4 linked regions of the Homo sapiens genome follow. The protein of the gene in region 4 purifies or fractionates together with the protein of the main gene of each other region. This does not show direct contact. Each region holds a gene or a part of one and is shown on either strand. Other genes may lie near its edges.

What was found.
Region 1: the proteins of PPP2R1A (region 4) and PRR14L purify together in Homo sapiens (affinity purification with mass spectrometry; 5 studies listed by BioGRID and IntAct, with this or other methods). This does not show direct contact.
Region 2: the proteins of PPP2R1A (region 4) and SLMAP purify together in Homo sapiens (co-immunoprecipitation; 5 studies listed by BioGRID and IntAct, with this or other methods). This does not show direct contact.
Region 3: the proteins of PPP2R1A (region 4) and TBCCD1 purify together in Homo sapiens (affinity purification with mass spectrometry; 5 studies listed by BioGRID and IntAct, with this or other methods). This does not show direct contact.

The regions. Positions count from the first base shown.
Region 1 is NC_000022.11:31,711,874-31,719,626, forward strand, and holds part of PRR14L (protein PRR14L), read right to left. Parts: intron 5,419-7,753; coding exon 210-5,418; intron 1-209.
Region 2 is NC_000003.12:57,751,308-57,759,857, reverse strand, and holds the start of SLMAP (sarcolemmal membrane-associated protein), read right to left. Parts: upstream 3,550-8,550; 5' UTR 3,516-3,549; intron 3,311-3,515; 5' UTR 2,207-3,310; coding exon 2,009-2,206; intron 1-2,008. UniProt on the Homo sapiens protein: Associates with the striatin-interacting phosphatase and kinase (STRIPAK) core complex, forming the extended (SIKE1:SLMAP)STRIPAK complex.
Region 3 is NC_000003.12:186,563,751-186,571,497, forward strand, and holds the start of TBCCD1 (TBCC domain-containing protein 1), read right to left. Parts: upstream 3,590-7,747; 5' UTR 3,517-3,589; intron 623-3,516; 5' UTR 580-622; coding exon 244-579; intron 1-243. Other genes in the region: DNAJB11 (dnaJ homolog subfamily B member 11 isoform 1 precursor), read left to right, coding at 7,148-7,215. UniProt on the Homo sapiens protein: Plays a role in the regulation of centrosome and Golgi apparatus positioning, with consequences on cell shape and cell migration.
Region 4 is NC_000019.10:52,184,823-52,193,283, reverse strand, and holds the start of PPP2R1A (serine/threonine-protein phosphatase 2A 65 kDa regulatory subunit A alpha isoform), read right to left. Parts: upstream 3,233-8,461; 5' UTR 3,188-3,232; coding exon 3,110-3,187; intron 1-3,109. UniProt on the Homo sapiens protein: The PR65 subunit of protein phosphatase 2A serves as a scaffolding molecule to coordinate the assembly of the catalytic subunit and a variable regulatory B subunit.

The sequences.
Region 1 (7,753 bases), on a different chromosome or scaffold from region 4:
GTTCTACAGGAAAACTGAGCAGGGGGTGGGGGTCCTATGCTTAAGAATTACTATTGGATTTTTCTCAGCAGAGATTTCGCAAGGTAAATAGAAAATGCAGACCCAAGAGGACTCTAAATAGCCTTGCATTTCCCGCAGTTCCCCTCTCATCTCCCCAGAGACAGGAAGCAAATATGGGACATTTGTAAAGAACAGGGGACAGATTTTACCTGCTTGTGGTGCCCAGACTTGGTTGCCGCTTGCAGTGAGGGGAATGAAGAGAAGAGATTTCGAAGGAGCAGACAGAAGGACCATGCTGGCTCCAAATGGATAGGACTCTGCCCACCGAGTAGGGCAGAGAACAGAAGACCTTGTCTGCTATGGAGGCTGGAGACCGTAACCCTTTCAGGCCCTGTGTAAACTGGGTCATGAAGAGCCTCTGCATGGTAGGCATGTGGCTGGAGAAGCTCCGTTTTTTTGTCCAGATTCGGTAACATCCTGGGGAACAAAGTGCTAGAAGTGTGTGAAGGCCAAGGACAGAGCAGTCTGCTCTGGTCTGGACTATGGCAGTGCCTCCATAGTCTTGGAGAGGAGCTGGAGGCTGGGGAGGAGCCTGAGTGTGGGTCTGACTATGGACGCCAGTGTCTTCCCTGAATGTTGCCATCCCAGGGCAACCGTGGGACAAGAAGAAAGAAAAGGTCCACTTGGGAGGTTGAGACGGGCACTGGAGGGCCTCTCCTAAGGCAAGCCTTGCCGGAGCACAGTGCTCAGGAAAAGTCCTTGAGGACTCAGTCGTGCAATCTGAGCTGGATGATTTCACATGAAAGGATACTGGGAAGATTTCAGAACCAAACAGCAGGGACGGCATCTTGTTGCTCAAATCTATGAAGGTCATCTTGATGGATTCGAGAGAATAAAGTGCCATGGGCTTACTGTTAGGCCTCTTATCCCATCCACTAGCTGCCAAATATGGATTCAGCTGCTCTGTGCTGGATGAAAATCCGTCCAGGAGTCTTTTATATCTGAGGCGCTTGTAGCTTTTAGCCATTGGAAGAAGTTCAGAGGAACACCGTCGGTATCTTAGCTTCTGAGTCTTCATGGCTGGGGCCAGTTTGGAGGCAAGGATGGACAGCTTGTTTAGTAAGGCTGATTCTTTGGTAGTCTTCCTAAAATTCAGGCTCCTCAAGGGATGGCACGGTGTAGACATCTGCTTTGGTATGTGACTAACCAAGCTCTTGGTAGGTGCTGTTTCAGGTTCTAATCGTGTAGGTGCAGACAGAGTACACAAACTGAGAAGTCTGTGCGCTTTTGTGGGGATGGGATTGGAAGAACTCTTTAAAAAGGCAGAACTTCTGATTTTACCTATTTTTCTCCCAACAATGATTTGCTCCTGATAGGAAACTTTCTTACAAGTTCGATGGGGCTGCTTCTTTAAGGGAAGAACTCCTTTCTTCGCAAAGGCACCATGTATTTGATCACACCCAGCAGAGGAGGGGTCTTGTGCTTTCCGAGGGGCACCAAGAAGGCAAGGACTTGTGCATGACTCAGTGTCCTTCCTTAATGGATGATGTAACCTTTCCTCCTTCTGGTCTTCTAACTTCTGAGTCTGTGCCACAATGCTGTCCTTGGCCAGCTTTGCTAGGGTGATTTCATTGATCATGGTGGACTCATCTTTGTCAGCCTTCGGTTGGTTCTGATTTTGTGCATCATCTAACAACAGACTAGATGATATGCACTGTTGCGATATCGTATGTGCTTTTTGTTGACGTATATATTTCTCTTCTTTCTGCAACATGTAGTCCAAAACCTCAGGGCTCTGCTGTTTTTCAGCATGATTAAGTATCCCCCGGCATTTAAAATGGGTCTGAGAGATGTTGCTCACGGGATCGCCATCGCCAGTTTCTCTGGTAACCAACTCCTCAGATTGCTCCCCAACAGTTAAGTAACCCAGTCGTCCCCTCTGATGCTCTTCGGTTTCTTCTCCTTTCACTTTAATATCTGTTTTCACTGTCAAAGGCAAATGTCTGTCAGAGGAATTCTCGTGAGGGTGACAAGCTTTGCAAGCATTCTTTTCCACACAGGTACATACGCTGTCTCTGTCACTAGAATTACTCCAATCTCTTGATACTATTTCCTTCATCTCAGGAAGGACTGTGCAGTCCTTTACATTTTCACAAAGCATTTCACCATCTTTTGGTTTACAAAGATTTTTCAGGTCAGTTTCTTCACTGTTAACATTAGTTTCTGAATTTTCTTGAGAAGGCATTATTTCAATGGATTTCAGGCTTCTTAGGGAAACAGAGCTTTCATCATGGCAAGACATCGACTCTTTTGAGGAAATTCCAAAGGTACTTTCTTTGCCAAACTCAGAGTTTGGTTCTAGTCTTGATCCTTCAGTCATTTCTTGTGTTTCTCTGAGAGATGTTCCTTTATCTTGCTGTCCATAATGGCTATCATTTAAAGACAAATTTACTCTGCCCAATATTCTTTTATTTGGTTCATGATCTGCAACAGACTCCATCTCATGGGCACAAGAGTCTGGACACTTTTCCATTTCACAGTCTTTTAAAGATCTGCATACGTTTTCTTCACATGATTTTTTTATTTTGAGAAAGTCCACTGTAGAAGCAGCAGTAACTGGGAAATCTGAATCCTGACCAGTTGTTCCTGTATGTGCAGCATCCAGTTCTCTCCGAGACAAGGTACTCCTGGAGTCCTCTTGAAATGCCAGTTTCTCTTGCCTTGCACCACAATCCAGTAGATTAGATGCCTTCACGTCCAGCACACCTTCTGCAAGCTTATTACTACAGTCCGTGTAGACGATGTCTACCATACCTTCTGTGGACTCATCACAACCAGACATCTTGACAAAGGCTCCTTTCAAATTGCATTTCTTTGGACTACCACAAGGTAGTGAGTTATTACTGCCTGAGCTGACCAGCAGATCCTTTTGGTTGTGGTTTACCTCCCCGTGAGGCTCGGTGACAGTCTCTCTCTGGTCACTACTTAGCATCTCCTTGGCTGACTGACCTTCACTTTTGCATTCATCTGGTCTGTTTTGGTTACTCTGACAGTCAAGGACTTCATCTGCCTTCTGATCGAGTGTTTCAACTGATTTTACATTTTTAAAACTGGAGAACATAACAGTAGGAGACTGGTCCAACACTTTTTCAGGACCTGGAATGTTTACAGTCTGGTTTAGTTCTTGTATAGCATGATCAGAGATGTTATACTTACAAAATACAGTTTCTTTGGATACATCCTGCTCCTTTCCTTCCAGCCCTTCCTCACTGAGTTTGATGCTACTGGAGGTGTGAATGGTTTTGTTTGAAATTCCACTATTTAACAAGCCTGCTACCATTTTGTTTCTGATCTTATCTCCTGGAAGGCTGCCATTCGTTTCTTTCCCATCAAGTTCCCTTTCCTGTGATGTGTAACTCACTTTACAGCTGCTTTTTTCCACAGAGTGTCCTGTTCCTTGGCAGCAGTGATCACGGTGCTGAAATGCATTTTCATATTTTGTTATCAAAGAGTTATCAACTTGCAGGCTGATTTTGCTGGACTTGAAAGCAGCAGAAGCAGAACACATGTTTTCCTGGGATACATTTTTTCTTACACGATGACAGCTAGAGATATCCTGAGATTGAACGCTGTGACATTCTATGACAGAGACCACTTGAGGAAAGCCAGCTGCTTCTCTCTTATTTGAGCGCAGCCTGGAATGTAGAGCTTTTGTTCCTGAATCAGCCATTTCCTTTTTTCTCTCTAGGCTTACTGGTTTGATGTTTAAGGTGGGACAGTTTGAAGAGGCACCACAGGTTTGGTTACCTGGTGGAGAGATGTCTTTTATTTTTGTCTGAATGGGAATGGTTTGTATATCAGCAATGACATCTGCTCTACCCTCTAATGGAGGGTGATGGCTCTGATGGGCATCTCTGCCTGTTGCTAAAGGCATCTCTTTGTTTAAATGCAGTAGAGAGTCAGTTGGCAAATTTGCATGTTCTTGAGAATTAAGGGACACTTGTTGATTTAAAACACATTCACTTTCTACTTTGTTTACAACCAGTTCATTGGTACAAGAAAGTTCATTCATCTCACAGGCTATGCTCTGTTCATCTAAAAGTGGAATATCATCATGTGAGGTCTGTATAACTTTTTCTGACTCAGGTCTGTAATCAAATTCTGGGGATGGTAGCAACAGAGCAGTACCTTGCTTGGGTTTTAATACCTCACTTACAGGACTTATTTGATCCTCTGGCATTAAACTCACAATGGATTTTCTTTCAAACAGAAAATCATTACATGATGCTTCATTTAACTGGGTGTTGCCTTCCAGATTTCTCTGGATGCTGACTAAGGAGTTACAGTCTTTAGTGTAAAAAGATTTACTTAATATATTGGGCTCTACAGGGGTTGTCTGTCCTGCCTCTTCAATCTGCATCAAGGAGGAAAAACTGCTTTCTTCAGAGTGTCCACCAGGATGGCTCATATTAGTAAAAGTTTCTTTATGGTCCTCAGGGTTTGTCAAGTTACCTTGAACGTGTACAGTAATTTTCAAATCATTTTTATTTAACATTACTTCTGTGGCTTCAGTAAAAGAATTGGGCATTAAAGAACTAGAGTTCCCTGTATGGAGACTGTCTTGAATGCAGTTATTGTGGATATTTTCCTTTGGAGAAACAACAGGCTCTTTTTCACCAGAACAACGACCACTAATCTCCTTTTCTGGTTCCCTGGCATTAAAAAGAAAAGGTCCACCTCTTTCACTCCTAGGAATCAAAAGCCGTTCCTCATTTTCTTCTCTAGAAGCCAAGTTCTTCCCTTGATCATCCCCCCTATAAAAATAAGAACTGTCTGTCTTTTCAGCAGATCTCTTTAGCAAACCACCACCTTCAAAACCACAGTTTTCTAAGGATATTGTTCTGGATTCTGGACCAGACAAGTCTGATGTGAAACATGAAACTTCAGAATTTTCTTTCAAAGGGCTTGTGGCTGTGGGACTATCATGTGTAGAACTGGGTTGTTCATTATGGTGGCCATGAAGCTGTTGGTGATTGTCATCTGCTTCACAGACCAGGTTTGGTTTACACAACTCTTCCTTCCCATTGTCCACATTAGAAATGGCACTGTTTCCTGGTAATGACAACCAAGGACAACTTTTTAATTCTTCACATTCTTTTTCTTTAGGAGTTGCTTCTGTTAATACAGGGTCCACAAAGGTTAAAGGTTCTGGGGTAACTAATGTGCTGGTTTCTGAAACCTCATCACTGGTCATGATTTTGTCTACTTCTTGGAATTCACCGCATCCAGCTGAGAGATCTTTACTCACATTGCCATTTTTGTGTCCTTCATTATTATCCGTCTTAGTCCCATTGACCTTCATACCTTGTACTTCGGCGGATTTTAGCAGAGTTTCAGCTGTAATCTGTACATTTCCTTCTGAATAAGAGAAATAAATCCAAATTAATATGCAGTAATAAAAAATCACTTGGTCTACCTTCATGCATTTTATTATGCTATGCTACCAAGGGCAACAGAAGACCCAACTCAAAAAGAAAACTGGAAAGTTAGCATGCTATACCATTGATTTTGTTCTTCTCTGAAAATATAACAGAGGGCCAAAACTATATCTGGCAGAAACGTAATTTTCAACAAATGCCTCTTGCTGAAAGTTTAATACAGAGTTCACAGATCAATGCTGGACAACTGAATACAACATAGAAATATGTTCCTATGTTGTATTCTCATTCAGTCTTAAGAGGCTTTCATTTTAAAACATTAATAAAGCAGACTCACAATAACAGCTTATTTTACTAGATGACCATGTTCTCAGTACTTGAAATTAGATGTCATCGATAAAATTAGTCCTTGGAAAAAAACAACTATACCTAAAACTTTATTTATTTATTTACCTATTTATTTTTTTCAGACAGAGTCTTGCTCTGTTGCCCATGCTGGAGTACAGTAGTGCGATCTCAGTTCACTGCAACCTCCACCTCTCAGCTCAAGCAATTTTCCCGCCTCAGCCTCCTGAGTAGCTGGGATTCTAGGTGCCTGCAACCACCCCCAGCTAATTTTTTTTTTTTTTTTTTGAGATGGAGTCTTGCTCTTGTCGCCCAGGCTGGAGTGCAGTGGCACGATATTGGCTCACTGCAACCTCCACTTCCTGGGTTCAAGCAATTCTCCTGCTTCAGCCTCCTGAGTAGCTGGGATTACAGGCACCCGCCACCATGCCCGCCTAATTTTTGTAGTTTTAGTAGAGACGGAGTTTCACCATGTTGGCCAGGCTGGTCTCGAACTCCTGACCTCAGGTGACCCGCCTGCCTCGGCCTCCCAAAGTGCTGAGACTACAGGCATAAGCCACCACGCCCGGCCCGCCCAGCTAATTTTTTGGGGGGGTTTTTGTTTTTGTTTTTGTTTTGAGACAGAGTCTTGCTTTGTCGCCCAGGCTGGAGTGCAGTGGCGCAATCTCGGCTCACTGCAACCTCCGCCTCCCGGGTTCATGCCATTCTCCTGCCTCAGCCTCCCGAGTAGCTGGGACTACAGACGCCCACCACCACACCTGGCTAATTTCTTTTTGTATTTTTAGTACAGACAGGGTTTCACCATGTTAGGATGGTCTTGATCTCCTGACCTCATGATCCGCCCACCTTGGCCTTCCAAAGTGCTGGGATTACAGGCGTGAGCCACCACGCCCGGCCTGCCCAGCTAATTTTTTTGTATTTTTACTAGAGACGGGGTTTCACCATGTTGGCCAGGCTGGTCTCAAACTCTCGACCTCAGGTGATCTCCTATTAGTTCTGTTCCCCTAAGAGAACCCTGACTAGCACACTATACACATGAACATGGGTATATGTACACATGATTTTATATATATATATAAAAAACAGGACAACTGTATTAAACAGAAAAAGCAAAATGCAAATCTATTTAAAGATCGGCCAGGCATGGTGGCTCATGCCTGTAATCCCAGCATTTTGGGAGGCCGAGGTGGATGGATCACACGAGGTCAGGAGTTCAAGACTAGCCTGGCCAACATGACAAAAACCCATCTCTACCGAAAATACAAAAATTAGCTGGGCATGGTGGCACATGCCTGTAATCCCAGCTACTGGGGAGGCTGAAGCAGGGGAATCGCTTGAATCCAGGAGGCGGAGGTTGCAGTGAGCCAAGATCATGCCACTACACTCTAGCCTGGGTGACAGAGCAAGACTCTGTCTCAAAAAACAAAGAACAAAACAAAACAAAACAAAACAATCTAATTCCTGAGTTTGATGCAGTACCTCACAATGGTGACCCCAGCACTTTGGGAGGCTGAGGCAGAAGGAATGCTTGAGCCCAGAAGTTTGAACCAGCCTGGGCAACACAAGGAGACTCTGTCTCTACAAAAAATTTAAAAGAAAAAAAAAAATCAGCTGAGCATGGTGGTGTGTGCCTTTAATCCCAGCTACTTGGGAGGCTGAGGCAGGAGGATGCTTGAGCCCAGGACGTCAAGGCTGCAATAAGCTGTGATTGCACTACTGCACTCCAGCCTGGGTAACAGAGTAAGCGACCTTGTCTCAAAAAAAAGAAAAAAAAAAAAGAACAAAAAATCTAAAATCTAATTCTTACTAGAATGTAAACTCTGTGAGGGTAAGGATCTTGTTTTGTTCTCTTCCTTATAGTTCAGCATAATGCCTGGTATATAAAAGCACAAGAGCACTTAATAAATATTCACAAAATTAATGAACGAATATAGTTAGGTCAAATAAACAAATGTTATTAATACCAAGTT
Region 2 (8,550 bases), on a different chromosome or scaffold from region 4:
TACAGCCATGGAAAGCACTGGGCATGAAATCAGTATTTTTCAAATAAGTAAAACAAAAAATGGGAGTCCCCTTCGAGTGTTTCATCAAAGAAAGTGCATTCGCAGAGTATGTACTGTGAGCCAACCTGTTGTCTGATTAGTTTAGACCTGTTGCCCAAGAACATAAAATGGTGAAAATGTAAAAGCTGGTTGAGTTAAGGCACTACTTAGTAGTAAACTGATGTTTGAATTCAACTGCTGGAAAAATGAGTTCTATGAATATTCATTTTAAAGAATTATGAGGGCCAGGTGCAGTGGCTCACGCCTGTAATCCCAGCACTTTGGGAGGTTGAGGCAGGTGGATCAACTGAGGTCAGGAGTTCAAGACCGCCTGGCCAACATGGTGAAACCCTGTCTCTACTAAAAATACAAAATTAACCAGGCATGGTGGCGTGTGCCTGTAATACCAGCTACTTTGGAGGCTGAGGCAGGAGAATCACTTGAACCCGGGAGGCAGAGGTTGCAGTGATCTGAGATAGCGCCACTGCACTCCAGCCTGGGTGACAGGAGCAAAAATCTGTCTCAAAAAAAAAAAAAAAGGATTACGAGTAATCTATGAAGTATTTTAGGCACCCTAACTTCAGCTTGCGAGGAGCGAGTGAAGGGTCTGTTCCACAGGTAAATGAGGATCTGGTGTTAAACAGAAAAGTTAACATACTCTTCAGTTCTCATCCTACACGTAAAGTATAGATATTATGCAGCACACAGCACTTGGACAATCTTTTCCTCCTTTCTTTAAAAAATAATTTACAAAATAATTCCTTAAATCAGTAGCTGCCGAAGTATCATTTTTTTCTCTTCCTTTTGAGGCTCAGGTTTCTTTCATTTCAAAACATATTCTTGAAGACTTAAGTTCTTCCTTTAAGAAAGATTTAATTATTTAACTCAGAAAGAGGGGCAAAAAGTCAGGAGGTGAAACCTGAGACAGTCCTATTAGTCTTACATAACTTAAAGTTGGAACTGATTCAGTAGCTCAGCTAAAAACCTGAGGTTTAGGCACAAAGATGAGCTCTTTAGTATACTCTCCACAAACATAAATAAACAGTTTTTAAAAATGGAAAGGATCTTAATTTCTTTCTTCACTTCTTAAAATAAAAGCACATACATGTATAGTAACTTACGATACTAACATAAAAATACTAAATTGGTTACGCTTAAAATGAAAAGCACTGAATTCATCGTATCACATTTAAGTAATGCTATAATTGACAGAATAGGGTATAATTTCAGAAAGTAAGTTTATTTCCTAACACTAACTTTTGAATAGCACCTCTGTAAGTATGCATTAAGTACTTAATAAGTGCTGCAGGGAACATCAAAAAGTGATTTTCAAACGCAATATGTGTATGTTCTCCAACTTGTAAAAAAAACTCTGAAAATATATAAAGTTACAGTTGTTCATGCTTAATTAAATTAGCTTTGATTATTGCAAATTACTCCTCCAAGGGCAAGTATGTATCAAACCTTTCAAAAATCTTAGGTTTATATCAGCAATTATCCTTACTAGAAAGGTCCTGATCTGAACTCACCTAAAGCTATGTGTTAACTACATTTCACCACTAAGACACTTGAGCCCCGGGATAATAATGGCCACGGATTCCCCGAATTGCTTCGAGAACTGCTGCTTGCTTAATAAAGCGCTGAACTGTGAATTCACCTTTCTAAACAGACTAAAAGCAAGACGCCAAGTTTCACTATCTAGTTTGGGATTTCACTGGGAATGACCACGTTATCAAGATGCCATAGCCCTCCTGAGGCTTTTAATTACAATACCTTCTCTGTTTTCCATTCAACCACCTCAATCAAATTTCCACTAGAACCAGGCACACAAACAGTTGATTCGTGGCTTTGCGCAAAGCCTCCTCTGGATGCAAACCCTGGGATCCTGCATACATTAGTCCTCTCAGGGAGGGCAAAAGGGGAAAAAAAGTTTGTTAAACAATGCCGCTGGACAATGTGGTGACATTACCTTGCCCGTCTTGTGATCAAACCAGACGAGAGCGTGGTTCCTTGATAGCACTTTGCAATCAAAAGTGGCATTATTCTGCGCTGGTCGACAGCGGGCCACTGAGCGGCCGATTTTGATGGGCTCGTCCAGGTAGACATGACGCTCCTGAAACGGGTGCGAGTTCGGGCGGCAAGTGAAGATGGCCAAGGCTGACGGCATCGAGGATAGACTGGGGGTGTCTCTCCTACCAGGGACAAAGAGGAGTTCCTCCGGATCCGGACTGCCCTTCACAAGCCTATGCCCCTATCCCACCCAAAATTTTAAATTAACACAAACTGCACATTGTCTAAGCATAACCAGTGAACATCAACTCTTCACTTGGGTGGGAAGACAAGCCAGCGCAAGCCCCATCACCTCCTTTAAAACGCTGCAACGCCGTGATCACAAAAAGTCCCCAACTGGCAGCTTTCAGTCCATCTTCTTCTCTGGGAAGAAAAGGCTCAAACATCGGGCAGCTTCGGCCAAGAAAACTCCTGGAACACAGTTTGGGGACTGGAGGTATCCAAGCAGATGAGTCACACGCCAATTCTTGTGTTTGGTTTGAGATCGCGGCCGCTTTTCCCCCTTGGTGGCGGAAACGTTGCAGCACTGCAGCATGAATGAAGGGTCGGTTCGGCGCGGCCAGGAAAGTCCTTTTGGGCCGAAGGAAGGTGTGGCTGGGCACCTCTGGGCAGCCACCGCCAGTCCTCGCCCGGAGTGAAGGGGCGAGAGGTGACGGAGACGGAGGGGCTCTAGACGGCCGGCGGGACAGTCTGCATCGCCCCTGCTGAGCGGAGGCCGCCCCGGGAAGGGGGACGCGGTCCCCGGCCTGGCACGATCCGAGACGGCGGTGGCTGAGGTTCTCCGCGCGAGGCGTGGAGGCCGGCGGGGCGCGGGCAGTGGCCAAGTCGGGACTCCTGGGCACCTGGCGAGCGTCCCCGCGACCAGGGCGGGGACCCGGCTCCGCAGGCCGGTGCGGACCGAGCGAGGCGCGACACCGGGAGGCTCGAGTTCCCAGGCGGCAGGAAGTTGGTCCCCGGACGCCTAGGCTTCTGGGCCGCCGCTCAGCACATGGGCCGCCTCCCCTCAGGGTCGCCCCCGCGAGGGTCGCATCTCAGGGACGGCAGCCGCAGCTCCCGGCGGACGAGAAGGTGGGGGAGGGAGACTGGCCCGGAGGTTGGGGAGAGGCCTTGAGGCCCCGGGCTGGATCCGCCGCAGCCTCCACCGATCGCGGCCGATGGGGCAAGCTCAAGCTGCGCCCGACGAGGCAGGAAACTTTCCGACCTGGTGGGGAAAACATCAAAACAAACGGCCGTCAGGCGCCTCAGCCCGCCCGCCTCAGCCGTCGCCCCCTCCAGCCAGACCCCCGCCAGCCCACACCGCTAGGCACGACCTCCGCCGACCTCTCCGCAAGCAGGCTACGAGGATTTGGAGCCAGGACGCCACGACGGGTCCTACCTCCCTAGCCGCCACCACCGCCTCAGCTTACCTTGCCAGCGCCGGCCGCCATAGTGACTCTGACTGAAACCTACCCGGTGCACCGCCACGGGAACGCGCACCCTTCAAGGGCCCTCCTACCCCCTCTCCCGCGCCGTAGTCCAGGAATGTCACGTGAACGACGCCACGGAAGCCGTGTTGGTAGAGGGCAGAAAAAAGGGCAAGGTAATTTTTAACGGGCCTCCAGGCGCCATCTTAGTTAAGGGCTGGAAGCTTCAAACCTCGGGACAACCTTAACGACCATTTTGGTTAAGGGCAAGAACAATTTGCGCCGTAGAAGGTTTTTCAAACAAACAGTGCCACCTTCTTATTTTATCTACTTAGCAAGGGGGTGCCAACTTTTACTAAATTTTATTCTGTTTAATTCTCGATGAAAATACTAGCGAGCAAAAGAACAGACCCAGCCAAAGGAGATGGTCATTAGCAGCCATCTTAGCTGTGGGCAACACAGTCACCCGCAGCTACCTTAAGTGTGAGCCGCCAAACTCCCTGAAGTCTTAGGATTTGTGCACCTAACAGAAGGACCATTCTCCCCTCTGCTAAATTCGTTATGTTTTCTTCCCGGAAAAAAAAAATCTTAGTTCCCGCATTCCATTTCGAATGACAGTCTTTCTCACTGAACCTATTATGTGCCCCCAGGGCTCCTGCGCGGATTCTTCCACAGAAGGAGCGTCCAGAAAGTTTAAAATCATGTTTCTTCCAAAGAGAGATTGAATAATTTCCAAAGTGAAAAAAGAGGGTATTTCCCCCACTTACAATATCAAGATGAGGAGTCATTGGTCTAAAGAAGGAAGACTTTGCAAGGGCTAAATGAAAACTTTAAGAAAAAATAGTGAGAAGGAGACTTACTCATTTAGAATCAAAGGTGACTTCATTCTTCAGATTCCTGCAATAACAGGCTCCACCACTGTGTGACCTTAAGCAAGTTTCTAAACTTTTTCAAGCCTCTTTTTTCTCATGGATGACATGTTAATAATAGTTAATTCACTTGATGTGGTGAGACTTCAAAATGTTAATCCATGTTGTTCAATAAAGAGTAGCAATTAGGCCGGGCGCGGTGGCTCACGCCTGTAATCCCAGCACTTTGGGGGGGCCGAGGCAGGCGGATCACCTGAGGTCGGGAGTTTGAGACCAGCCTGACCAACATGGAGAAACCCCGTCTCTACTAAAAATACATAATTAGCCGGGCGTGGTGGCGCATGCCTGTAATCCCAGCTACTTGGGAGGCTGAGGCAGGAGAATCACTTGAACCCGGGAGGCGGAGGTTGCGGTGAGCCAAGATCGCGCCATTGCAGTCCAGCCTGGGCAACAAGAGTGAAACTGTCTCTCCAAAAAAAAAAAAAAAAAGAAAGAAAGAAAGAAAAAGTAGCAGTTATTCATCTCAATACTTATATAGACAGTTTGGCCGTGTCCTAGGTTTTTGCTGGGCCCTGGGGACACATAACTGAACCAAACTTCAATTCCTGCCTTCTGAGATCATAACGGTATTGTGGGTTAGAAATGAGGGTAGGGAGTGACAAACATGAAATTGATGTAATCAGGGCTAAGATAGAGGCAGGCACTAGCTGCCCAAGGGGTCAGGGATGGTCTGGGAGAAGTAACTGAACTGAATGAAGGAAGATAGGAAAACCACAATAAATATGGTATTCGCTGAATGGTTTCATGAATTTCCACAAACACGGATAGCAAGGAAAAGAAGGAGCCTACTTGAAACAGTGCACCAATGTGCCGGCACATAATAGTGGATAAATAAGTATTTGATGCATGAATGAAAATTACATACTGTTACTCATTATTAGAGGATAAAGTAGGCGGGACACAAAGTGAGTCTGGAAAGAATAGGCATTATATAATAAAGACGTTATATTCGTTTTTCAAGCTCTTCATCAATTCAACAAATATGTGTCAAGCTACCACTGTGTTCCAGGTATGCTATTCAAAATGAGGATATGTTGGAAAGCTTTCTTATGAGAGGATGAAAAGTTTTCACTTCTGATAACTTTTAGGCTGTTAAGGAATAAAATAAGATAGGACCCTCCACAGATCCCTAATGAGTTTTTTTTGCACGAATAGCAAGTCATTTATGCATTCTTTCATACATTCATTCTATAAACATTTAATTGATACTGTGAAATAGATATTTTGAAAGGTCCTGGAAATACAATAATGAAGAAACAAAAAGACTCCCTCAAGTTGCTCGATTTAGGTGATGACACAGAAAGATCCTTGCTGTAATGGAGTATGTCAAGAGTAGTGGAAACATGGCAGAGTAGTTTAAACTGAAACTTGAAAGGATTAGAACAGCTAGTCTGATGCTATTGGGATAAAGAAATTTTAAGCTAAGAAGCAATCCCAACAAAAGTCCAGAGACTTGAGAGAACAGGACTTTAAGGGAATTGCAAGTAGGTTCGTATCACCAGAGCATAAGAGATAAGGGAAAACGAGGAGAAAGAGTGACAGAAGTGAGGTTTCAGTTGCTGAAGGACTTCTAGGCAATGCACCAGACTTCAGAACATTTCCATCTTCCTCCTAGAAGATCAAAGAGAAGTAATGAAAGTCAAGGTGCTGGAATCAGACATGGCATACTTTTACCAGCACCATAAATGGTAAATTATTTAGCTTCCCTAAATTTCAGCTTCCTTATCTGAAAAAAAAAAAAGCATATATCTACTGCACTTGACTAGTCTTTTTTTTAAAAAAAAAAAAAAGGGGTTGGGAAGGGGGAAGGAAAAAGGTAGATAATACCTTACAGAGTCTTCTTAGGATTAAATAAAACAATGGAATACAAAATGCCAACCATGGTGGCTGGGAAATAGTAGACACTCACAGAATGTTAATATTTATCATTATTGCTCATAGAAAGAATTCCCCCAGCCTTCCACATATAGTAAGGAGCAAGTTGTTTTATCTCTAGTTTGTATATAGAGAAACTTAATCATACATATGGAAACAAAAAAAGTCTGTTTATATTCAGTTCTACTATAATATCTCTTAAAATTAATGTTAAGCAGAGTGGACTTTCTTCTACAAGAAAAGCTGGGACTACTATAACATGTCAGGATAAAGAATCCTATCAAGCTACACAGGGTGCTAGAAATGCCAAAATGGCATTGAAGGCATTCTTCACCCACTGGTATTCAGCAGGCACAGAAAAGGCTTAAATTAAGAAATCTCATACATGAGATACTTTGAATTCTAAGTCATGTGGGTGTTCCTCTCTGTGATTCTGTATCCACACAAAATTTTTATTAAATAAAAAACATGTCATATTTTGAGAAATTGGGAATGGCAATGTTTCCTGATTTTGTAGTTCTCTCCCTTTTTAAGTTTCTGCCTTTTTATAGTCTGATGAGTATTGCCACTGCTATGATCCAAGCCACTTTTCAATCTTATAAAAGCAAAGACAGACTTGTAAAATTATCATCCTAGTACCATCAAAGATGGGCAATTATTAGCATTTCTGATGTGTAGGAGACAACTCTGTAAACTCTACTAATAAGCAGCCCTTTCTAATTAATAATGATCTAATTGGACTTTGACCAATGACATACACTTGGTATATAATAAATTATGGAACACTTGCATAACTGTTTCAGCAGAGTACCTGGATTGCAAATATAGGTAAGCAAACCAATTAAGAGAAAGCTGGGAGTACTCAAAGCCCAAAATTGAGAGTATATAACATTTTTAGTGGCACACACTGGCTTATTACAACTGAAGTTAGGTCCTCTTCCCACTAAGGAAAGCTCTCTTCATCAGGGAGATTCTAATGAGTGGAAATACCCTGTCATTTCCCAGGTGCCCAGGGTGGAGTAGCCCAGACATTCCAGAGGCACTGCTCATATGTTTGTGGCTTCCTGGTTATTCAGGAAATAAAAGAAAAGTAACTACCTGAAGACAAATGAAGACATTAAGTTCATTTAGCAACCTTTTTCTGTGAATATAAAAGGAGGGAATCACAATATTATAACTCCAGAAAGAATCATAGACAACAAATCCAGCTTCCACATTTTACAGGCAAGGAAATTGAGGCTCAGAGAAGGAACTTTAATGATTGTGTATTTACCATGTGGTTAGCATTTTCCTCATGACATCTCTGTGTATTAAGTATTAACCTTATTTTATAGGTAAGTAAGGAAACTAAGGCTCAGGCTCAAACATTAAGAAAAACATTAAGAATCTTAATATTCGATTGAGTGACTGAAAATAAGTCACCATGCTAGATCCAAAGTACATGCTGGGGTTTTTTCTTTCTAAAAATTATCTTTATTTTTATTTATTTATTTTTTGACAATATCTTGCTCTGTCACCTAGGCTGGAGTGCAATGGCACAATCACGGCTCACTGTAGCCTCAACCTCCCCAGCCCAACCAATCTTTCCACCTCAGCCTCCTTAGTAGGCATGTGCCACAGGCATGTGCCACCGCCATACCCAGCTAATTTATTTTTGTTTATTAATTTTTTCTTTTCTGTATACCTCGGATCCCCTGTGTTGCTTAGGCTGGTCTCAAACCCATGGGCTCAAGTGATCCTCCTGTCCGGCCTCCCATAGTGCTGGGATTATAGGCATGAGCCACCATGCCGGCCCCGACTGATTTTTTTGATTGATAAAAGAAACACATGCTCATTGCATATATTCAGGTAAGCAAAAATGAGGAAAGTAAAAGTCCTCTCTAGCCCCATCACAAATACTTAGTCTAATGCTACTGTTAACAATTTGTTAGCTGTATTCTTCCAGATGCTATTCTAAGCCACATGAAGCATGCCCTTTTAAAAATACCACATTTATTAGAAGTGGGAAGGTCAACACTAAGGGCCTTATTCTTAAAAGTGATAAATAATTTATATCAATAGCAAAAGGCCTGTATTGGGGCACGGGGACGAGGAAGGGAAGAAATTATGCTATTTTTTGTCACTCTTGTATAAGTCCCCTTTTGATTACTGGAAGTATCTGCTTGTTTTTTATAACTAATTTGAGAATGTTACTTGGAATGTAGCAAATGCTTAAGAGTAAAAGGGCTGGGTCA
Region 3 (7,747 bases), on a different chromosome or scaffold from region 4:
AGCTAATACAAAAATTAAGAATGGTTTATTGGGCCAGACATGGTGGCTCATGCCTGTAATCCTAACATTTTGGGAGGCCGAGGCAGGAAGACTGCTTGAAGCCGGGAGTTCAAGACCAGCCTGGGCAACAAAGTGAAACTCTGTTTCTATCTAAAAATTGTAATAAGCAAAAACATTTTTTAATTTAAAAAAGAATGGTTTCTTTCCAAAAGTAATTAAGTATACACACATATCAATCCGTACCTGATTTCTCTGCTTTTCAACTTCCTCCTCAGACATGCAGTTGGACAGAACCTCAGACCATTCCAGGCGCTCCTCAGGTGTCTTCATTGAAAGACTATCAAATATTTCGAAGTAAAGCCACGCCAGGTCCTTGGCCAACTGCAGCTTCCCACAAGCGATGTGCCTCCATGTAGACCAGTAGAGGCGCGGGTAAGCTCCTTCTGTGGCCCGGATTTGCACATAGGTGGATATCTTCCTGAGATAGTGAAGACTAAACTTGGATGGAGGGGGGACCTGCAAGGCACCCACTATAAAGGGTTCTGCTTTCACCCAGAGGAGAACTCTGGACTGATCCATATTATCTCTAAGGACATCAGGGTGAAAAGGCTTCTTTGCATACCTAGGAAACAAAGTTTCTTCATAAACTGATTTGAAACAAGTCTCATTTATGCATTTTTTCTTGGAAGGTGACCCCTCTCTCTCAACTGTGTCATATGTACTACATCATCATCTTAAAAGGCAGCTCTAGTTCACCAACCAAGAGCAGAACAGTTTTTTTAATCAGATCTCATTATAATCTGAGAAAAAAATTGTGATAAAACAAAATTATCTTACTTGAATTGTTAGAAATCCTTGTTTTAGGAAGTGTGTGTAGATGCATGAAGTCTGAGTGAGATCCCAGGAAGAAAATGAATGAGGGGAAAAAAGTCATCCTATCACAGGAAACCTTTTTCTACTCTGAGGGGGAACACTGTTCAAAATAAGGGAAATACATTTCACAGAGTTAAATCACTTACACAGAAGACAGTTGGTTAAAGATCTGGACATGTTAGCTGAGCATATAAATTCAATATGAAGTGCTAATGTGAGGCAGCAGGCAAGAATGCTAATGTAAATGTAGACTGCAAGAATAGATCAGGAGAAGTTACAGCATCTTTATTCTCTATAACAGTGAACCCACTCTAGCATATTTGATCCTGCTCAGTTCAGGTGTGATTTTTTAGATTTTTTTTTGTTGTAACAATGATACATGATTTTTATGGAATATTTATAAAATACAAAAACAGGGAACCATCCACAATCCCACAAGTAAAGGGCAACAAATTAATATTTTATTGTATTTCCTTCTTCTTCTTCTTTTTTTTTTTTTTTTTTTGAGATGGAGTTTCCCTCTGTTGCCCAGGCTAGAGTGCAGTGGCATGATCTCAGCTCACTGCAACCTCCACCTCCCAGGTTCAAGCGATTCTCATGCCTCAGCCTCCCCAGTAGCTGGGACTACAGGCGTCCACCACCACACCTGGCTAATTTTTGTATTTTTAGTAGAGATGGGGTTTAACTATGTTGGCCAGGCTGATCTCAAATTCCTGACCTCAAGTGATCCCTCGCCTCAGCTTCCCAAAGTGCTAGGATTACAGGCTTGAGCCACTATGCCTGGCCTCTTTGTCTTTTTTCTACACATAAATTAGATGTTAGTTTTTGAATTTTCACAGTTGTGATGTTACATACACAATTCTGTACTGTTTCAAAAGCTTTATAGTATTCTAAATAAATGTATCCCATTTTATTCAACTCTTCTCCCATTTTTAGACACCTTACTAGGTTTCAGATTTTTCACAAAAACAACATAGGCAAAATACTGATCATTATTGAAGTGGGGTAATGGGTACGTGGGGGGCTCACTGATTCTATTTTTGTGTATGTTAAAAAATTTCATTACAAAAGTTCAAATGTTGTCACAAGTGTAAATAATGCTATCACTACCATCTTTCTTCATATTTTCTGCATTACGAATTATTTCTGTGTGAAAATTTTCAGATGTACTTTTGTGAAATTAAGTAATTGACATTTCTAAAGCTTGTGAAATATATCCTTGTTGCTTCCAAATGATTTTATCAAATTGTACCATCCTTTGACTCTGGTACCTACTTCACTGTGCACTCCTCAACATTAGCAACATCATTTTTTTAAAAATATAAAAACTAATTTAAAAAATCAATTATATGACTGATGAAAATTTTATTGCTATTATTATATTTTGCATTTGATTCTAAGAAAACTGTGCTTCTCTCTTTTTTTTTTTTTTGAGACGGAGTCTCGCTCTGTTGCCCAGGCTGGAGTGCAATAGCTCGATCTCGGCTCATTGCAACCTCCACCTCCCAGGTTCAAACGATTCTCCTGCCTCAGCCTCTCAAGTAGCTGGGATTACAGGCTCCCGCCACCACGCCAGGCTAATTTTTGTATTTTTTTAGTACAGACAGGGTTTCACCATGTTGGCCAGGCTGGTCTTGAACTCCCTGACCTCAGGTGATCCGCCTGCCTTGGCCTTCCAAAGTGCTGGGATTACAGGCGTGACCCACCGCACCCGGCCTGCCAACTGTGCCTCTCTCGAGAATCATCTGTTCGGAAAAATAACTGACATCAATCGAGTGCTTACTATGTACCAGGTATCATGCTCATGATTTTGCATACTTCACCTCCTTTCATCCTCACAACCACCTGGAGATACAGTACTTAAGACTGTACACATTTTCGATGAAAAAAAAATGAGGCTTAGCGAAGTTAAGGGATTTCCCTAAGGACACCTACTTAGCTGGCACAGCTCTAGATTAGGATTCAGGTCTGACTTGAGAACTGCATTACTATAAATGTACTCTAGGAATCCAGTTTTGGGAGAATCTCTTAAAAACGGGAGTGGATCCAGAAGAGAATTTCCAGAATAAAGAGTCTTAGACAGGAAGCCAGGTGAAAGAACCAGGGAGAGTAAACTCAAAAGAAGGGCGTGGAAGGGCAAAAGGCAGCTGTCTTCCAATGTGGAGAGACTGGAGTCGTTTTGAGTAAAACCAGACGATAAAAGTTAGGCGAGGAAGACCTCGGTTCTCTCCAAAATGTAAAGAGGCTGCTCTGTGAGGTACTGAGCCCCTGTCAACAGCCAGATCCCAGAGATGAGCCCTCCATTCTAACTCCGAGAATCGAGAGGGCTCAATCCGTAAACAAACATAAACTGGGGCTCTGACCCTGGCGGTGCCCTGAGGTTAAGGTTTTTCAGGTCGGGAGATCGGCGTGGGTCCAAGGCGGCTGTCCTGGGGCTTCGCCGCCACCTTGGACGCGATCCGGGGTGGGACTCTGCGTGGGCCGCCCCAGCGTCGCGACCGGACTTCAGGAACACAGACGCTCACGCTGACAGGGTCGGTAGCTGACCCGAGACGCGGTAAGCGCGAAGGCAGCCTCCTCGACCCAAGCCTGAAGCCTGACTAACCCACACCGCCCTCCCCGGCGCACCCAGTGCGCGGTTACCTGCTAATGCAGGCGCCGCTCCGCCGCACTTCTCCGCGCGCCGCCGCGCCCGGCGTCCGCTCGCTGGGCCCGCCCCTCACCCTCCTCCGCGCGCCGCTGCCGTGCCCACTGCGCAAGCGCGAGGCCCCGCACCACCGAGACCTGGCGGACCCCGTTGCTAGAGCGGCAGATTGCGGCTCAAGCGTCTGAGAAAATCTAGGCTGGGGTCGAGAGTCCGCAACAGTGGCACCTGGAGCCAGACCCACCGCTTTCTGGTGTCGCGCCTTTCAACCCGGGGGGGTAGGAAGCTTTCTGTTGCTCCGCATAACTGTGGTCAGCTAATAGCTGCTGGTAAGATCAGCACGCTTTCATCAGAAATGCTACTAATACTAATGGCAGTTTGCATTTATAGAGCACTTACTATGGTCTCAGCACTGTGTAAAGCAACTTTATGTGTATTTCCTAAGTCTTGTCAAGAGCCCTTTAAGTACATTCGTTTTACTGATGAAGAAACTAGGGCCTAGAAAGGTGAAAATAACACAACCCTAAGGTCACACAAGAGATGGAGCCAAGATTCAAGCCCAGGGCGTCTGAAGCAAGACTGGCACTCCCTGCCGCCCCTCGGTGTCAGCTCCTTAACTCTGTTAGCTTTCCTGCCGTGTTTCCACCTTCATGAAGCTTTTTCAGATTACCGGGCAGAAGCCATCACTCCTTCCTTTAAACTTCCATTTCAGAATTTCTGGACATTTCCTGCTTTTTTTAGTTCCTTTATGGCCTCTCTAGGTGTGATAGATACAAAGGTAAATTAGACCGTAAAATGCAATTTAGTTCCTCTTTTGTGTGGCCATTGTCCCTACTGGGTATCTTCCTGAAAGCAGGGGCTTCAAATTTACACATACCTGGGTTAGGATCCAGGCTGCACCACTTATTAGCTCAGTGACCCTGCTGTTACTTGTTGAGTACCACTGTGTGTCTGGCACAGTGGTACGCACTAGAATGACAGAAGTGAACAAAACAGACAAGGTCCTTGCTTTCTTGGAGTGTATAACAGGGAGAATAGACAATACATATTAAGGAATAAAATAAGATAATTTCAAATAGTGAAAAATGCTATGAAAATTGGGGCGGGGGGTCAGGGAAGGCCACTTTGTGGTGCCAAATTTGAGCTGAGGCCTGAAGAGTAAGAAGCCAGCCATACAATGATCACCATCCCAGTAACTTTGACTCAAAAGTACTTCAGCACCTACTCCATGCCAGGCACTGTTCTAAGGTGCTCTTTTATACAGCTGTGAACAGAACAATATAGATTCATGCTCTCATGAAACTGGCATTTCAGTGTGTAAGTCTAGGGACCAGGGATGAAAAAAATAGGAGGCCGGGCGTGGTGGCTCATGCCTATAATCCCAGCAGTTTGGGAGGCTGAGGCGGGTGGATCACTTGAGGTCAGGAGTTCGAGACCAGCCTGGCCAACATGGTTAAACCCAGTCTCTACTAAAAATACAAAAAAATTAGACGGACATGGTGGTGTGCGCCTGTAGTCCCAGCTACTCGGGAGGCTGAGGCAGGAGAATCGCTTGAACCCAGGAGGCGGAGGTTGCAGTGAGCCAAGATCACGCTACTGCTCTCCAGCCTGGGCGACAGAGCGAGACTCTGTCTCAGGAAAAAAAAAGAAATAAAGAAAAGAAAACAGGGTGGTGTAAGAGTAAGGAACTCAGTAGGGGCTAATTTTGATTAATTGGTCAGGGAAAGTCCTCCCTGAGGTGGCGACCTTTAAGCTGATATATGAGTTAAAGAAGGAATCACCCATGCTAGCACATGAGGGAGAGTACAGTGTTTCAGGCAAAGGCAATAGCTAGCACAAAGGCCCTCGGCAGGAATGAGCTCGGTGTATACAAAAAAAAGAAAGGAAGCAAGTTTTGCTGGAGCATGGTTAGGAGTATAATAGGTTTACAAAGCATAAACGGCTTTGTAAACTAGCATGGAGTTGGGATTTTATTCTAAGTGCAAATGAAGAGCCATTCCAGGCTTTTAAACAGGGGAGTGACATGATTTGACTTTTATTTTTTATTTATTTATTTATTTATTTATTTTGAAACGGTGTGTCACTCTGTCGCCCAGGCTGGAGTGCAGTGGCAGGAACTCGGCTCACTGCAACCTCCACCTCCCAGGTTCAAGCAATTCTCCTGCCTCAGGCTCCCGAGCAGCTGGGGTTACAGGCGCTCGCCACCACACCTGGCTAATTTTTGTAGTTTTAGTAGAGACAGGGTTTCATCATGTTGGCCAGCCTGGTCTCAAGCTCCTGACCTCAGGTGCTCCGCCCGTCTCGGCCTCGCAAAGTGCTGATTACACTTTGGGTGGGTGAGCCACCGCGCCCGGGCTTTTTTTTTTTTTTTTTAAATCATGGAGTGAGGGACAGGGATGAGCAACATATATTAAGATATTAAGGAAGATATTAAGAGTGGGGGCAAGGAGGCCAGTTAGGAGGCCCTGGCCAGGTGAGAGATACACTGTGACCCAGAATCCTGGTAATGGAGATGTAGTGAACAGATTGAAGTATAGTTCAGAGGTAAAGAGTTGGATAGCTTATGCATGAAAGGAATAAAAACACCTAGAGCTTTGTCCTGATCAACTAGGTGTTGTGTAACTGCGATGAGCAAAATCGGGGGGAAGATGGGGAATCAAAGAGTTCTGCTTGAACCGTAATAATGGTTTTTACTCGTTGCCTGCTTACTATACGCCCGATGATTTACCGATTTTTTTCCCTGTTAAAATTCACAGAACTGCCAATAAGTGCTTTGCCTCAGTTTTGTTGATAAACTTAGGCTCAGACTTGGGAGGAGGGGAGGGGTGGGGGGTCTCACCACTAAGAAGCGGTGGAAGCCGAATCCGAACTTAAGTCGGTCTGTCATCACTGTAGCCTTTCCGAGACAGTTGTCTTATGGAGTTGCTTGGAGAACGTAAAATAAGAGGCCTAAGCAATGCGTCTGATGTACACCTGTCGTGGAATAACTGTTCCCGCTCATTCGGCCGCTGTACCTCTGCTCCCTCATTCGGAGCGTAGCTGGGTATGAATGAAATTCCGGGCTTGTAGCACAGAGAAAACTTCTCTCCCACAATTGGTTGGTGCTGGGGAGGAAGCTCCTGATTGGTGGAAAGTCCGAGGAAGTGGGCAAGCCGGAGGGATTTCGTGTACCTCAGGTGCCCTCACTCTGACCGGCCCCCTATCATTACGTAATTTTCTACGACTCGCGGTAGCTCAGGCAGAGCGGGTTCCTGCAGCGGCGCGACCCTCTGACGTCTCCGCTTCTAATTGGTCAAGAGCTGCGACTGCAGTTCTGAAGCCTAACTGGTTGCCCGTGCCGCCTCGGAGGTGAAGTGTACTGCGCTGATTGGCTTCCAGGCGCCGGCCGCGTGTGATGTCCCGGGCAACGATTGGCTCTCGCCTACCGGGGGCTTCTCTCACCGGGACTCGGGACTCCCGGGAAGTGGACCGGCAGAAGAGGGGGCTAGCTAGCTGTCTCTGCGGACCAAGGAGACCCCCGCGCCCCCCCGGTGTGAGGCGGCCTCACAGGGCCGGGTGGGCTGGCGAGCCGACGCGGCGGCGGAGGAGGCTGTGAGGAGTGTGTGGAACAGGACCCGGGACAGAGGAACCATGGCTCCGCAGAACCTGAGCACCTTTTGCCTGTTGCTGCTATACCTCATCGGGGCGGTGATTGCCGGGTGAGGAACAGACACTCGCAGACAACGGGGCCTGTGGGTCAGCCTTTGCTGGGGGGTGGGAGGGGGTGGGGGAAGTGGCATTGCCAGACTGACGGAGTGGAGAGGGGCATCGCTGTGGGTTGGCGGGGTGGCGGAGGAAGGGGTAGTATGGGCCAGGCTAGTGGGGTGAGAGGAGAACCGTGGGTGACACCAGTGAGAGGGCCTTAGGTCCAGAGAGGGTCTTAGGTAGAGCTAGATTTGCCCAGAGGAGTGGGAGTTGGATGCATTGCCAAACGGCATTTGGGGGATGAGGGAAAGAAGGTGGTTGCGAGCTGAAGCAGTGTCACGTAGAGCTGGGGAAGAAAGAGGGATGCCTGACTGTAAGGAAAGATAGTGACAGTGCCAGGCTGAGGTTGAGGGGATGGACGTTTGTTTGATCAAAGAGGTGAGTTGCTGTGCCCCGCTGAGGTGGAGAAGCGGACGATGCTCTATGCCAAGCCTTCGAAGAGCCATTCTGGGGCTGACATTAAAGTGGGTGGATGATGCCAGCCCG
Region 4 (8,461 bases):
ATATGAATATAATCAGCAACCGTGTGTCCCACCCCAGATTCTATTCCACCCTTAGGTCCTACTTCCTTTCCTGGCTCCTTCATTTCTCAGCTGCACAGCTTTGGCCATGTTATTTATGGTGCTTCAGTTTCCTCATCTGGAAAATGTGGACAAGGACAGGACCTACTTCAAAGAGTGATTGTGAGAATTCAGTAAGATCGTCAGTGATATTCCTCTGTACTGTACCTAACATAGAGCAAGCACCCAATAATTTGTTACGCAGATGGTTTAAGTCAGAGGTCAGCAATTTTTTCCCTGCAAAGGGTTAGACAGCAAATATTTGAAGCTTTGCGGCCATCTCTGTTACAACCATGCAACTCTGGGCTGTAGCACAAAAGCAGCCATAGGAGCTTCCAGACAGATGAACACCTCGCGGTTCCTGGGGGGTGGAATGCCTAGGGAGGGCATGGAAGCTCCACACAACTTCCCCCACACCTCACCCTGCATGTGTCTTCATCTGTATCCTTTGCAATATTCTTTAGAATAAACCGGTAAGCTGCCTAGCTCTGATCCTGGCACAAAGACATCTCCCTACAAATGTCTGCTGGTTAGTGGATGGATGGATGAATGAAAAGATGGGAGGATAGATAGCTGAAGGAAGTGATCCTGGAGTTAAAAAAAACAAAAAACTGGCCGGGCATAGTGGCTCACGCCTGTAATTCCAGCACTTTCGGAGGCCGAGGCAGGAGGATCACCTGAGATCAGGAGTCTGAGACCAGCCTGGCCAACACCGGGAAACCCAGTCTCTTCTAAAAACACACACACAAAAATCAGCCAGGCGTGGTGGCCTGCGTCTGTAGTCCCAGCTACTCAAGAGGCTGAGGCAGGAGAATTGCTTGAACCCGGGAGGTGGAGGTTGCAGTGAGCAAAGATCGCGTCAGTGCACTCCAGCCTGGGAAACAGAGCAACAAGACTCCGTCTCAAAAAAAGAAGAAAAAAAAAAAAAGGCCATTACATATCTGTTCCCTCTTCCTGGGAGGCTCTCCCCCACCTTCTTTCAATCTCTTCTCAAACTCTGCATCCTCAGAGGGGCCTTGCCTGATTGGCCTTCTTAAAATGGATCTGCCCCACCCCACTTTGTACTTGCTGTGCCCTCTGCTTTCAGGCGTGTTCTCAAACAGGATCTCAACAAGGCCTCCCCTGACCACACTTTAAAACTGCATGCCCTATATATACCCCATCTCTCTTATTTTTATTTGTCTCCCTAATGCTTATCCCCAGTATACTCTGTTTATTGTCTGTCTCTCCTCACTACAAAATAAACTCCCCAAGGCCTAGAGTTTTTTCTGTCTTGTTCCTGCTATATACCAGTGCTTAGAACAGCGCCCTGCACAGAATAGAGGCCCAATTCAATATGGATTCGCTACCACTACATCCTATTTGTTTCCTTCCCATCACTTTTCAAACACTCATCTATTCAGCTCTGCTGACCTGTTTCACATCTGGATCCTGTATAGCAACTGGTGTCTCCACTATATCCCCAGCATCATATCTCATACATGGCATATATTTACTGAACAAAAGAATTCATACAACCGCCCTATGAACTAGGTAATTAACCCCATTAAAGAGAAGAGGAAACAGGCCTAGAGAGATTAACTAACTTGCCCTTGTCAATCAGTAACAAGTGGAAGGGCCGGGAATACAACCACAACCTGTATGCCACCAGAAACAGTGATATACCAGGAACCTAGGAGGCGAGACCCACGTTTGGCAGGTTACCCAGTGCACCTTGTCCAATTTTATAAATGGGAAAACAGACCTAAAGGGAGGATGGGACCTCTTTAATCACCACTCCCAATAATTACAGCTAATATTTATCGAGCCCTTACAACAGGCCTGACACCATTCTACTTTTTATTTGTGTCATAATTCGTTCAGTCCCTCACAAGTCCCTCCAGCAAGACCAGGACTACAATTAGCCCATATTTTATGGAACACAGAGACCCAAAGCGGTGAAGTAATTTGCACAAGGTCACACAGCAGGTGGGAGGTGGACTTGCAGTTCTAACTGTTCTCAATCCCACACCAGCCCGGCTCAGAGCCTTGGGTCACCTCATCCCATAACCAGGAATGTTCATCCGGGCTGGGCGCGGTGGCTCACGCCTGTAATTCCAACACTTTGGGAGGCCGAGGCGGGTGGATCGCTTGAGGTCAAGAGTTCCCGACCAAGCCTGGCCAACATGGTGAAACCCCGTCTCTGCTAAAAATACAAAAATTAGTCGGGCGTGGTGGCTCGCGCCGGTAATCGCAGCTAATTAGGGAGCTGAGGGGCGAGGATGGTTTGAACCCGGTATGCAGAGGTTGCACTGAGCCGAGATCGCGCCACTGCTCCCCAGCCCCAGCCTGGGCGACACAGAGACTGTCTCAAAAAAAAGAAATAAATAAATGTTCATCTGCTTAGCAAATCCCTCAACCCCTATCCTGGTCAATGGGAGGATCCGGGGAGATGGGGAGGCGGGTTTCTACAACCTAATTCGCTCCTAAACTTGGCTAGTCCCCACCTTTGGTGGGGGGGTGTTTTTGCGTCCCCGTCCTCTTAGGACACCTAAACCAAAATGAGAGGCGGAGGAAGAGCAGGAATTAGGATGGCAGGCCTTCGCCTCTCGGTCCCCACTTGGCCCAGCAGTCGAAACCCAGAAAACAAAAAAACCTTCCCAGGTCCCGACCCACCCGGCGGCCCTCCCCTACTTGGAGCAAGTCATGCGCGCCCCACATCCCCAAGAGGCCATTCAGAGGCCGCCGCCAATCACGGAGTCCTCCTCTCTCCCAGACCCAGTCCGCAGACCCCAGCCCTGGCCACAACCTCCCAGGACCGCGGACCGCCGCGCGCACAGGGCAGGCCCGGGACCCTCGAGGCTAGCGCTGGCCCCCGCCCTCCACTGGGCCGACACCCAATCGGGAGCGCCGTCTCAAGGAGTCCGGGCAACCGGGGAGATAAGAGACGCACGCTGATTGGCCGTCGCCCCCTTCCGCCACTCCCAGCGAACGCTGAGTCTTCTCCGCGAGGGCCGCCCGTGCCCCCAGGTACCCCTCCGCGTCTTCCCCAAGTCCCCCGTAGCCTCCGGACCTGAACGTCCTCATTGCGGAGTTCGTCTATGAGCACCGCGATGGGGTACAGCGAGTCGTCGCCGTCGGCCGCCGCCATCTTGGCTCCGTCCCTTTCCTGTCAGACTGCGGCCAGCGCTGTGCTGAAACGTGGGGGGGGCAATGCTGGGAGAAGAAGGAAGGGCGGGCGTGGGGGCGCCCGAGCCAGTTTACAGGGGCTGCTCCACGGCCATTGGCCGCGCTACCCAGGGCTAAGCTCGCGTTTCTTTGGTCCGGACTTGTGAAGTCCCGCCCACTTCCGATTTGCCATTGGTCGAGTGAACAAGATTTGACTAGTTTGAGCCTAGGAGAGGGGGAAGAAAGCGGAAGTTAGCCGTGTCCTAGCGACCAAGATTGTACCCGCCCTGGTCGCTGCTAACAACGACCGAGACGAGCAGTAGTTTCTAGCCAATGAGGGGCGACATGGGGAGGAGGCTAAGCCTGCCCTTTCTTGAGTCCCCGGGAAGGCTTCTGCGCGTGCGTCGGTGGTAATACGTGACGTCCTGTGGGGAGCTGGAGGGTGTGCAGGTTTTGGGTTACCAGGCCGTGGTTCCGCTGGCTGGCTGGCTGGCTCTCCGCGCCGTTGCGCGGCAGGAGGAGGGAGTGAGACTTTGATTTGTGCTTGATTTATGCCAAGGCCCAGAGAAGGGAGCGACTTGCCCTTCTCTCTTTTTTCTTTTTCTTTCTTTTTTTTTTTTTTTTTTTTTTACTTTTTTAAAGACAGGGTCTCGCTCTGTTGCCCAGACTGTAGTGCAGTGGCAGGATCTTGGCTCACTGCCGCCTGGACCTCCCCGAGCTCAAATGATCCTCTCGCCTCAGCCTGCAGAAATAGCTGGGACTATCGGCGCGCGCCGCTAGGCCCGGCCAATTTTTAAAAAAATGTTTGTGGAGACCGAGTCTCACTGTGTTGAGCTCAGTTGCCTTGCTGTTTGGATGAAACCCAAGCCCCTCGGGCTGGTATTCAATACCCTGTCTAGGCGCGTCTCCCATCTGTTTTTTACCTTTTATCTGATGTCCTGGAGAATTACAGCTGCCTGAGCACTTCTTGCGTTTTCATGCCAGCAAGCCTCCTTGCCCAAGCTGTGCGTTCTGCTAGGGGTGCCTTTCATATTCACTTCTGAGATCTCTGCATAAATGCCTCCCCTTTACTCCCTTTCCTCTCTGTCTTCAGGCTCTGTTCTCTAGGCTTCCAGAGCCACAGAACCCCTCTCTCTGTCTCTCCAGTCCCATCTATCTCTCTGTCTCTCCAATCCCATCTCTCTCTCTCTCTCTCTCCAATCCAATCTCTCTCTCTGTCTCTCAATCCCAGAGCCTGGGCTGTGACTATGTATTCGAATTTGTTTCCTCCATAGAGTGGGAGCAGGATTGGATCTGACTAATCTCTGTTTTTAACCTCTTCAACACAGCCCTACCCCCCCACCGCAATCTTAGGACCACTCTAACTGAGGGAGTTGAATGGGGATGGGAAGGCCTGGGATGCTCTTTCCTCCTTTATTCTGCTACTTGAAGGGCTAGGCTGAGCTAGCACTCTGACAGATCTGAATACCCACAGCATCTATTTCTTTTTTCTTCTTTTTCTTTTTCTTTTTTTTTTTTTGAGACGGAGTCTCGCTCTGTTGCCCAGGCTAGAATGCAGGGGCCCGATCTCGGCATACTACAGCCTCTGTCTCCTGGGTTCAAACAATTATCCTGTCTCAGCCTCCAGAGTACCTGGGATTACAGGCGCCTACCACAACGCCCGGTTAATTTTTGTATTTTTAGTAGAGACGGGGTTTCACCACTTTGGGCCAGGCTGGTCTCAAACTCCTGACCTCAGGGTGATCTGCCTGCCTTGGCTTCCCAAAGTGCTGGGATTACAGGTGTGAGCCACCGCACCCGGCCTTTTTTTTGAGGCGGAGTTTCGCTCTTGTTGCCCCGGCTGAAGTGCAGTGGCTCAATCTCTGCTCACTGCAACCTCCACCTCTCGGGTTCAAGCGATTCTTCTGCCTCAGCCTCCGGAGTAGCTGGAATTTACAGGCATGAGCCACCACGCCCGGCTAATTTTGTATTTTTAGTAGAGACGGGGTTTCACCGTGTTGGCTGTCTTTGGTCTCGAACTCCTGACCTCAGGTGATCCGCCCACTTGGACTTCCCAGAGCGCTGGGATTACAGGTGTGAGCCACCGTGCCCGGCCCAGCATCTATTTCAAATACCCTTACCCACTGCAGTTAGGAAACTGCTGCTCATAAAAGTGGGGATGGGGTTGAATATTTCAGTCCCAGCCCTCCCTATTCCCAGGACTCCTCTCAGCCCCAAGGTCTCTGAGGCTAGGGATCTTTTTAGCTATGCGTGCCTGTCTTGGTGTCAGGCTGCTTGGGATGTTGGGCTGGTGGCCTTTGAAGTGCTTAGGGCCTAGGAATTTTCAGAGGCTTAAATGAGGCATTATAAATCTCAGAAACAAAATAAAAACAAATTATGGATTCCAAAATGCAAAACAAAACTGCAAACTTTAATAAGTATTTAACAAATACCTATACAAATCAATACCTATACAGATCAATACCTATACAGATCAATACCTATACAGATCAATACCTATACAAATCAATACCTATACAGATCAATGCCAGTGATAATAGCTACAGTAAAGTGTATTCAGTAAATTAATTCATTTAACCCTGACAATAACTCTATGATATATGTAAAGTAGCAGCATCATCCTAATTTAATGGATGAGGAAACCGAGGCATAGAGAACTTTAGGAATTTGTCCAAGTTCTCATAGATGGTAATAGTGGTGCTGGAATTTGTTTGTTTGTTTGAGACAGGGTCTTGCCTTGTTGCCTAGGCTGGGAGTGTAGGGACGCAATCTGTTCTGTGCTCAGTGCAGTCTTGATCTCCCAGGCTCAAGTGGTCCTCTCACCTCGGCCCCCCCAATGCCCGGTAGCTAAGACTAAAGGCATGTGTGACCATGCCCGGGTAATTTTTTAATTTTTGTAGAGACCCCTGGGGTCTCACTGTGTTGCCCAGGCTCGTCTCAAACTCCTGGGTTCAAATGATCCACCTGCCTTGGCTTCCCAAAGTGCTGGGGTTACAAACAGGAGCCACCCCACTCATCGGGTGCTGGAATTTGAACCTGGGCAGTCTGACTCCAAAGGCTTGCTTGACTAAAACTCAGCTTTAATATAATGATACAATCCAGGTGTGGTGGTGGCTCATGCTTGTAATCTGAACACTTTGAGAGTCCAAGGAGGAAGGATTGCTTGAAGCCAGGAGGTAAAGACCAGCCTGGGTAACATAGCAAGACCCCTGTCACTGCAAAAAAGAAAGAAAGTTTAGCCGGGAGTGGTGGCACATGCCTGTAGTACATCAGGTATATCCCTGTAGTACTCAGGAGGCAGAGGCAAGAGGATCACTTGAGCCCAAGAGATCGAGGCTGCAGTGAGCCATGATCACACCACTACACTCTAGCCTGGGCAACAGCCAAGACCCTGTCTCAAAAAAAATTAAAATAAAATAGAAATACATATATATGTGTATGTATATATATATATATATATATATATATATATATATATATATATACATACACACACACACACATATATATGTGTATATATATATATATACACACACATATATATGTATATATATAAAATATTTGATGGGGGATTTTGGATTATTTTACTATGCCTGAGTTCATAGTGGGGTGGGGTGTACAAATGCAAGAGATTCTGGGACTAGGAGACATTCCTGATGTTGGGTCTTGGGCTTTCCTAATCCTCAGTTTCCTTTTTTTTTTTTGAGATGGAGCTTCACTCTTGTTGCCCAGGCTGGAGTGCAATGGCGCGATCTCAGCTCACCGCAACCTCTGCCTCCCAGGTTCAAGCGATTCTCGTGCCTCAACTTCCCCAGTAGCTGTGATTACAGGCATGCGCCACCATGCCCAGCTAATTTTTGTATTATCAGTAGACATGGGGTTTCTCCATGTTGGTCAGGCTGGTCTCAAACTCCTGACCTCAGGTGATCCGTGCGCCTTGGCCTCCCAAAGTGCTGGGATTACAGGCGTGAGCCATCACACCTGGCCTTTTTTTTTTTTAATTTTAAAAATGTACAGACGGGGGTCTCACTATGTTGCCTAGGCTGGTCTCGAACTCCTGGGCTCAAGTGATCCGCCTTGGCCTCCCAAAGTGCTGGGATTACAGGTGTGAGCCACTGTGCCCGGCCCTGATCCTCAGTTTCTACATATGTAAAATAGGAAAGTCCACTATTTGATAGATTATTGCATAAAATATCGGACATACCAACTATGGATTATTAAAGAACTTTCATAAAAACCACTTAGATCTGTATGTATGGAGTAAGAGAAATGGGGACGATATATGTTGAATGGAAAGTGGAAGTTGCAACGTGTCTTAGTTCAGGCTGCTGTAACAAAATACCATAAACTGGGTAGCTTATAAACAACAGAAACTTATTTCTCACAGTTTGGGAGGCCAGGAAGTCTGAGATCAAGGCACCAGCAATTTAGCGTCTGGTGAGGGTCCACTTTCTGATTCGTAGATGGTGCCATCTAGCTGTGTCCTTCTCACATGGTGGAAGGGAGAAGCAAGTTCTATCAAGACTCTTATTTTATTTTTTATTTTCTTCTTTTTAAAATTTGAAACATCCAGCTACTGCACAATACTGGAATTTTTTTTAACAATTTTTTTTTTTTGGAGGAAAAAATGGTGAGATCCTGCCATAGGGTCTCACTATGTCACCCAGGCTGGAGTGCAGTGGCATGACCACAGCTCACTGCGGCCTCAAACTCCTGGGCTCAAGCAATCCTCCCACCTCAGCCTCCTGAGTAGCTGGGACTACAGGCATTCGCCGCCATGCCTAGCTAATTATTTACTTTTACTTTTTTGTGGAGACAGGGTCTCAAACTCCTGGCCCCAACTGATCCTCCCTCCTTGATCTCCCAAAGTCATGGGCTTACAGGTGTGAGCCACTGTGTCTGACAGAATTCTTATAAGGACACTAATCCCATTCATGAGGGCTCCACCATCATGACCTAATGACCTTCCCAAGGCCTTACTACTGAAAATACAGCTGTTGGAGAGGTTGAGACAGGAAAATCAGTTCAATCTGGGAGGCGGAGGTTGCAGTGAGCCAAGATGGCACCATTGCACTCCAGCCTCGGTGACAAGAGCAAAACTCCATCTCAAAAAAAAAAGCAATTTCAGCATCATTTTTTTTTTTTTTTTTTTGAGATGGAGTCTCACTCTGTCGTCCAGGCTGGAGTGCAGTGGTGCAATCTCAGCTCACTGCAGTCTCCACCTCCTGGGTTCAAGTGATTCTCCTGCCTCAGCCTC